Regions from separate parts of the Homo sapiens genome. Here region 1 is linked to region 2. Evidence: fine-mapped expression QTL. A gene starts in region 2. The other region holds a variant in brackets. All regions are shown on one strand. Distances are from middle to middle.

Evidence for each region. PIP is the estimated chance that this variant, and not a neighbour inherited with it, causes the effect. A credible set is the group of variants that fine-mapping cannot tell apart.
Region 1: its variant is the best candidate, but not a certain one, in a credible set for the expression of DAP3 in whole blood (TOPMed, PIP 0.59).

The regions. Positions count from the first base shown.
Region 1 is chr1:155,731,481-155,735,480 of GRCh38, forward strand. DAP3 (death associated protein 3) reads left to right here. Exons shown (of 13, transcript NM_004632.4): 11 at 464-553. Among named protein-coding and RNA genes, the nearest start is that of DAP3, 44 kb to the left of the region's middle. The variant A/G (reference allele first, on the strand shown) is at 1,887.
Region 2 is chr1:155,686,817-155,690,816 of GRCh38, forward strand. It overlaps DAP3 (death associated protein 3), which reads left to right and starts at 2,275. Exons shown (of 13, transcript NM_004632.4): 1 at 2,275-2,358. YY1AP1 (YY1 associated protein 1) reads right to left here and starts at 1,958. Exons shown (of 11, transcript NM_139119.3): 1 at 1,843-1,958; 2 at 1,255-1,385. It also overlaps the pseudogene LOC124904430. RefSeq lists enhancers at 1,364-1,998, 2,374-2,423 and a silencer at 1,834-1,883.

The DNA of each region.
Region 1 (4,000 bases), 45 kb after region 2:
TATTTCATTGCTAATACTTTACAGTCTCTAATTTTATGGACAGTAAGTTATTATGTCTTATTTAATTCCTGTATCTGTACCAAGTTAGAAATAAAGTCTGAATTAAAATCTATATATATGTGGTTTATAATCTTTCCAAAGTAAGTTTATTCAAAACCATTTTATTTAAATATTGGCCTAATTTTATTTTGCTTGCAGACATTTAAAGTGTTTTTGTATCTCCTTACCGTCTTTGGAAAAGAGTTTGAGACCCACAAATATGTCATGGTAAATTTAAAATCAGGTAGCAGTTTATTGTCAGAGCCAAATCTGGAATAACCAATTTAGTTGCCATTTAACTGTGCTAGACCACACTTTTGTAACACTGTATGCCCAAGAAAGAAAAAAAAAATCTACAGATGATTAATGCAGTTTTCCATCCTTTTTAACTTTTTCCAGTTCAGCCTTTTCTCTTTTCTTTCAGCATGGAGGCGCCATTGTGTCGGCTTTGAGCCAGACTGGGTCTCTCTTTAAGCCCCGGAAAGCCTATCTGCCCCAGGAGTTGCTGGGAAAGGTCAAGTCAAAGGAAAATTTGTTTCTACTTAGATTGTTATCCTGTTTAAAGAAAAATATTTTTATTAATCTATGTATTTTGACATAATTTCAGACTTAGAGAAAAATCATATTCCTGTATGCCCTTCCCCTGGATTCCTAAAATATTAACTTGATCATCATTGCTTTATCCGTCTCCGTCTTTCTCCAGAGTTTCTTTTCTTTTTTTTTTTTTTGAGACGGAGTCTTGCTCTGTCAACCAGGCTTGAGTGCAATGGCGCAATTTCGGCTCACTGCAACCTCCGCCTTCCGGGTTCAAGTGATTCTCCTGTCTCGGCCTCCTAAGTAGCTGGGATTACAGGCGTCCACTACCACGCCCAGCTAATTTTTTGTATTTTTAGTAGAGACGAGGTTTCACCATGTTGGCCAGGCTGGTTTCAAGCTCCTGACCTCAAGTGATCCGCCTACCTCAGCCTCCCAAAGTGCTAGGATTATAGGCGTGAGCCACGGCGCCTGGCCTTGATGCTTCTTTGTCTCCAAATAATGTCTCATTCCTAAGAACAAAGATACTCTAATATACCCTGAGCATAATTATCAAAGTCAGAAAATTGACATTGATATCATACTTTTACCTAATTGGTGGGATTTATTCTGATGTAGCCAGTTATCCCAGTATCTTTTATAGAAAAATAAATCCCAGATAATGTGTTACATTAAGTTGTCATGTCTCTGGCTGGGTGCGGTGGCTCATGCCTGTAATCCCAGCACTTTGGGAGGCCGAGGCAGGCGGATCATGAGGTCAGGAGATCGAGACCATCCTGGCTAACATGGTGAAACCCCGTCTCTACTAAAAATACAAAAAATTAGCCAGGCGTCGTGGCGCGTGGCTGTAATCCCAGCTACTCAGGAGGCCGAGGTAGGAGAATCGCTTGAACCCGGGAGGTGGAGGTTGCAGTGAGCCGAGATTGCGCCACTGCACTACAGCGTGGGTGACAGAGCGAGACTCCGTCTCAAAAAAAAGAAAAAGTTGTCATGTCTCTTTGGTCTCCTTTAATCTGTGACAGTCTGTCAGTCTTTGTCATTTGAAATCTTTATGTTTTTGGCATGTGCATGCCAGCTATTTTGTAGGTCACTTTTTGGGGTTGTCTGAGGTTTCCTCCTGAATAGAAGTGATGTTAGAAGTGATGACATGTCTGAGTGAGTGCATCCTATCAGGAGGCACATTTCTCCCATTACTGGTAATGATTTTGGAACTGTTAGCTGAGGTGTTGTCCATCTGGTTTCTCTTCAGTAAAGTTATTATTTTGCTTTGGAATTAATATGTATGTTGTAGAGATATACTTTGAGACTAGGTA[A/G]AGATCCTGTTACTTCTCAAACTTCCACCTACTGGTTTTAGTATCCATTACTTTAGTTATACCTGGCATGGAGCCTCCGCAGCTGGTATGGTCTTGTGGATTTTTATTTAATAGAATCTAAATCATTACTGTCACTTTTTATTTTGGTGCTCAAATCATCTTAGATTTGGCCATTAAAAATTCCTTCATTGGCCGGGTGTGATGGCTCACGTCTGTAATCCCAGCACTTTGGGAGGCCAAGGCGGGTGGATCACGAGGTCAGGAGTTCAAGACCAGCCTGGCCAATATGGTGAAATCCTGTCTCTACTAAAAATGTAAAAATTAGCCAGGTGTGGTGGTGCGTGCCTATAGTCCCAGTTACTCTGGAGGCTGAGGCAGAAGAATCGGTTGAACCCAGGAGGCGGAGGTTGCAGTGAACCAAGATTGTGCCATTACACTCCAGCCTGAGCCACAAAGCAAGACTCCGTCTCAAGAAAAACAAAAAACAAAAAAACAATTCCTTCATGGCCAGGCTTGGTAGCTCACAGCTGTAATCACAGCACTTTGGGAGGCCAAGGCAGAAGGATCCCTTGAGCTCAGGAGTTTGAGACCAGCCTGGGCAACAAAGTGAGACCCCATCTCTACAAAAAAAAATTTTAAAACTAGCTGGGCATGGTGGCATTCACCTGTAGTCACAGCTACTCTGGAGACTGAGGTGGGAGGATCGCTTGAGCCCGGGAGGTCAAGGCTGTAGTGGGCCCTGATTTTGCCAGTGTACTCCAGCCTGGGCAATAGAGTGCGGCCCTATCTCAACAGGAAAAAAAGCTCCTTCAAGCTAACTTCTATATCCTTTTAAAATGTCCCCATCATTATTTTTTTGGAGATAGGGTCTCACTCTGTCACCCAGGCTGTAGTGCAGTAGCACCATCATAGCTCACTGTAGCCTTGAGCACATGCCACCACACCCAGCACTGAATGTTGTCTTTTTCTTTTCTTTCCTTTTTTTTTTTAGAGGCATGGTCTTAACTATGTTGTTGCCTAGGGTGGTCTTGAACTGCTAGCCTCAGGCAATCCTCCCACCTCGGCCTCCTAAAGTGCTGGGATTACTGGCGTGAGCCACCATATCCAGCTCCTATCATTCTTTGACCACTTCTTTATTTTCTGTCATGAGAATATGTTCCAGACCCCTCTTATACTTCCCATGCCCAGCCCTGGAATCTCCATTTCTCCAAAGAGCATTGGCTTATTTTAGAGGAGACTGGTATTTAGCAACCAAGGCCTGAGTCCTAGGTATACTCACTGCTACTGAGGTGTCCTTTCTCCTAGGCCCTCACAGCAAAGTTCATAAATAGATGTACATACATACATGTATGTATGTATATGTGTGAACCATATGCATATACATGTTTATACACATCCACACACATCTGCGTTTGTTTCTCTAATCATATTAAAAAACTATGAGTTCCTACTAGTAGCCAATTCCATGCTACCATCACAGCAGTCATTATACCCTTTCCATATCTGTAACTCTAATCTAAAATAATGAGAAATCTGCTGCCAGTAGCCATAGTATATTTACTTATTAGCTCAATACTAGAATATATGAAAAGTAGTTTCAGATTTGATAGCTCTCAGGCTGGGCGTGGTGGCTCATGCCTATAATCCCAGCACTTTGGGAGGCCGAGGCGGGCAGATCACGAGGTCAGGAGATCTAGACCGGCCTGGCCAACATGGTGAAACCCCGTCTCTACCAAAAAATGAAAAAAAAAAAAAAAGAAAAAAAAATTAGCCGGGCGTGGTGGGGCGCCTATAGTCCCAGATACTCCGAAGGCTGAGGTGGGAGAATCGCTTGACCCTGGGAGGCAGAGGTTGCAGTGAGCTAAGATGTGCCAATGCACTCCAGCCTGGGAGACAGTGAAAAAGAAAGAAAAAAATAAGTTCCTTGGGCCGGGCGCAGTGGCTCACGCCTATAATCCCTGCACTTTGGGAGGCCAGGGCGGGCGGATCACCTGAGGTCAGGAGTTCAAGACCAGCCTGGCCAACATGATGAAATCCTGTCTCTACTAAAAATACAAAAAATTAGCTGGGCATGGTGGTGCAGGCATGTAATGCCAGCTACTCGTGAGGCTGAG
Region 2 (4,000 bases):
ACATACATATCTGACACAATCGGTCTCCCCCAAATACAAGCCAACCAGTCTTATGTGCTCCTATCTTTCCAGCATACTCAGATTTGCCGACAAAGACTTCCTGAGGCACCATGGTATGCTGAATATACTGCTGCAGTAGTAGTGAAAATATGGGAGTTACAGTTCCAACTTTGTCACCAATTTAACATGCGGCCTTGGAGAAGTTCTCTCCTTATGCCTAAATTTCCTATTTTGTAAAATGGAAGAAAGCATCCTACCATTTTCACAGAGATTCAGTATCACAAAGAAACTGAAAGAGCTTTCTTATTGTATTGTAAACTATTACTATAAACCCGCGACAACAAATAAGGCCACCCATTCTTTACAGCTTTGTAGCAATGATTCTGTTAAAGATATTTTGGCCCTTCACATTTACACAACTCACTCTAACCAAAGGCACAAACTATTCTTAAGACCACAACTGGCTATGCCAAGTTTCTCCCCTCCCTGACCTCACAGACACATGCTGTACAGAACACTACCATTGCCGCTCTTTCCCAACAAGTAACTAGGGGCTCCCAATCCCTAAAATACACACACATATCAACCTGCAAGGAACCTCCCAACATTTATTCAAGAAATAAGCTAACTTATAAGGGGAACTCCATTACACTTACACAAATAAAGGCAAACTCTTACGGAAACACTTGCCATCCTCACATACACACACCAACACAGCCGCTACACACCAACAGACCATCTGTCTGCTAGACCAAAAACATCTCTTTCCATGTACAAACTAACCAGTGACATTTATTAAACGTACAACACTGAGATCATCCTGTCGTTCCCACATACCGTTCAACGCGGCAGGGACACCACAGACCTTGTCACACAGGTAAAATCCCCTCTCAAGATCGTGTCCTCGACCACTCTTATCCCTTAATTAAACACACACAAACTGGACTATGGGGGAGGCTCCGATCATGCCTACAAACACAAACTAACCTGTCAGGGGCACAGCCGACTCCGCCTCCACTCGCTTACTTCCCAGCCCCCTCCGGGAGTCTGCCTGTCAGGGACACCCCTTCACCCCGCCTGGAGGGACTTCCCGGTAGGCTCAGGATCCCCCTCCCTGCTCTCCCCTCCCCCATCTTCACCACTGCTCTCCCAGAGGTCCAGGTCCGGGAGATGACAGTGGCTCCCAGAAAGCCCAGGATTCAATCGCTGAGAGAGTGCTTAGGCCCGAATGCCGGCCCAAATCGTTCTACTCACCGTGTCGGAGGCCGAGAGCGATGAGAGTACAGGGAAGTGAGGAAGAGGGGGTGGCCGCCAGGCTCCTCCGCTTCCCTGGGTCCACCGCGGATCCCTCCCGCTTGTCAGGAGGCGGCCAGCGGGTAAGCCGACTGGCGGAAATGCGAGAGAGGAGAAGGGAAAGGTGGAGGGCTAAAGGGGCAAACTGAGAGGAGGCGGATCCCGCAACCGACACTGGGATCGTTTCCCCTCGCAAAGCGAACCCAAAATGGCGGCGGCAGCGGCGGCAGCAGAGTGGCCGCGGCAGCTCCTCCAGAGGGAGGGAGCTAAGGGCGCCTAGCGACACCCCCAACCTCCCACTCCTCCCTCCTCGCGTTCTTCCCCACGGTCCCCCGCTTCGCCCGACTCCGGCCATGTAGCGCGCACGTCAGCCCGCACGCGTACGAGTGTCTACGGGCTCGTCGCTGGCTGCTCCCACCAACCACCACCTTCGGCCGTCCTGCGAGCCAGCCATCCCGTACGCGCTCACCCACGGGAACCTCCTCGCCCAGTTCTCCACTCCCCCTCAGACCCTGTCAAGCCGGCTCCAGCGCAGGCCCTCACGCGTACCTTCAGCGGCGCGAGCCCAAGCCTTCTCCACCTCCTCTTCTCTCCTCCCCCTCCCTCCCCGCCCGCACGGCCACCAACCGCCGCCAAAGCAGCCGCCGCCAGCACCCCCACCCTACACTCCTCGCGCGTGCGCCTCCCACAGTCCCCACCGCGGGACTGTTCCATTCCTGGCGGCTGCAGGGGCAGGAGAGGAAGGGACCGGCAAAGCGAGTCTGGCTTGCCGTTTGACTGGAATTGCCAGGGTGGCCGGCCGAGTCCCATGACAACCTACCTCCCTGGGTTCGTCGCCGCGGCGCTGCGGCTCGCCTCCTCCTCCATGGGACCGCGGCGAGGGGATCGAGGGCGGCCTAGCGCCCCTCTGCCGGCCGGTGGTTGGAGGCCGCGGCGGCTGCGCGTTGAGTCGTTTCCTGCCGGATGACCCGACCCTTTTTTGCAGTCTCAGGACGGGCGCTTTGGAGCCGGCCCCAGGCAGCGTGTGTCGGTCGCCTAGTCTGGAGAACTAGTCCTCGACTCACGGTGAGGGAATGGACCGACACGGGTATTGTACCGCTGAGGGAAAGGAGCGGGACTCCGGACCTCCAGGAGGTAGGGAGTGAGGCCGGTAGACCGGCGCGCCTCCGGGGGGGATTCCTCCCGGGCGTTGAGTTGCCAACCTGGGACCCGAGGAAGTTCGGCGTGGTGGTGTGCTTTTTGTTGTTGTTAACCCTCCTCGGATTTCTCGAATTTCACACCACTGTCCATATGCGATGATGTTTGTTTGCCCTTGACGCACTTACTCATGGATGGTACTTCAGCCTCGTTAGACAGCCTGGTGATGGAGGATGAAGAAACCATGTGCTTCTCATTCAGTTCTGGACTCAGTTTCCCTTGTCTTCAGCAAGTTATTTTTGTTAGTTCCTTATCAAAAAGTGTACATAAAAATTAGGCAACTCCAAACATGCCTCCAGGGTTGGTGTGTGAAATAATAAGATAGGGCTGGGCGCGGTGGCTCACGCCTGTAATCCCAGCACTTTGGGAGGCCGAGGCAGGTGGATGACAAGGTGAAGAGATCGAGACAATCCTGGCCAACATGGTGAAACCCCGTCTCTACTAAAAATACAAATATTAGCCGGCCGTGGTGGCGGGCGCCTGTAGCCCCAGCTACTCGGGAGGCTGAGGCAGGAGAATTGCTTGAACCCGGGCGGCGGAAGTTGCAGTGAGCCGAGATCGCGCCACTGCACTCCAGCCTGGCGACAAAGCGAGACTCCGTCACACACACACACACACACACGAAATAATAATATATGTAAAGTGGAATTAGCTCCTAGGCATAGGGAAGGTGCAGAGTATTGCCGTGTTGTCATTTACAGTTCTGTTGATGTCGATAACGTTTGTGGGTGTAATGGGTAGTGTTCTGTCCCTCCAAGTCGTTAATAAAACAAAGCAGGCCGGGCGTCTTGTTAAATAGTTGTATCAATGACTTGATTTAGATTAATGAGGATATATTTTTCAAATTTATGCCTTTTACAAAATTTTTAAAGAGTAGGTAATGTCGGTGATAGATATAAAGAAAGGAAAAGATCTCCAGATGTGGAATCTTCTACTGGATCCTGTAACAGAAAGAAGACATTAGGCTGGGCGCAGTGGCTCACACCTGTAATCTCAGCACTTTGGGAGGCGGAGGAGGGCGCATTGCTTGAGCCTAGGAGTTCGAGACCAGCTTAGGCAACACGGTGAAACCCCATCTCTACAAAAAGACACAAAAATTAGACAGGTGTGGCACACGCTTGTAGTCTGAGCTACTTGGGAGGCTGAAGCAGGAGGATTGAGGAAGAGGTTGCAAAGTTAGCCGAGATCACGCCATCACACTGCAGCCTAGGTGACAGAGCGAGACCCTGTCTCAAAAAAAGAAAGAAGACATTAGCAGAAAAGCTGAGGAAATGCAAATAAAGTCTGCAATTTTTAAATAGTATTGTACCAGCTTTAATTTCTTAATTTTGAAAATTGTACCATGGTCATATGTATGTAACATTAAGGAAACTCTAATGAAAATTGTAAGAAAGCACTTTGTACTACCTTTGCAACTCTTCTGTAAATTTACACTTTTTTTTGTTTGTTTGCTTTGAGATAGGATCTATGTCGCCAAGGCTGGAAGGCAGTAGTGCAGTCCTGGCTCACT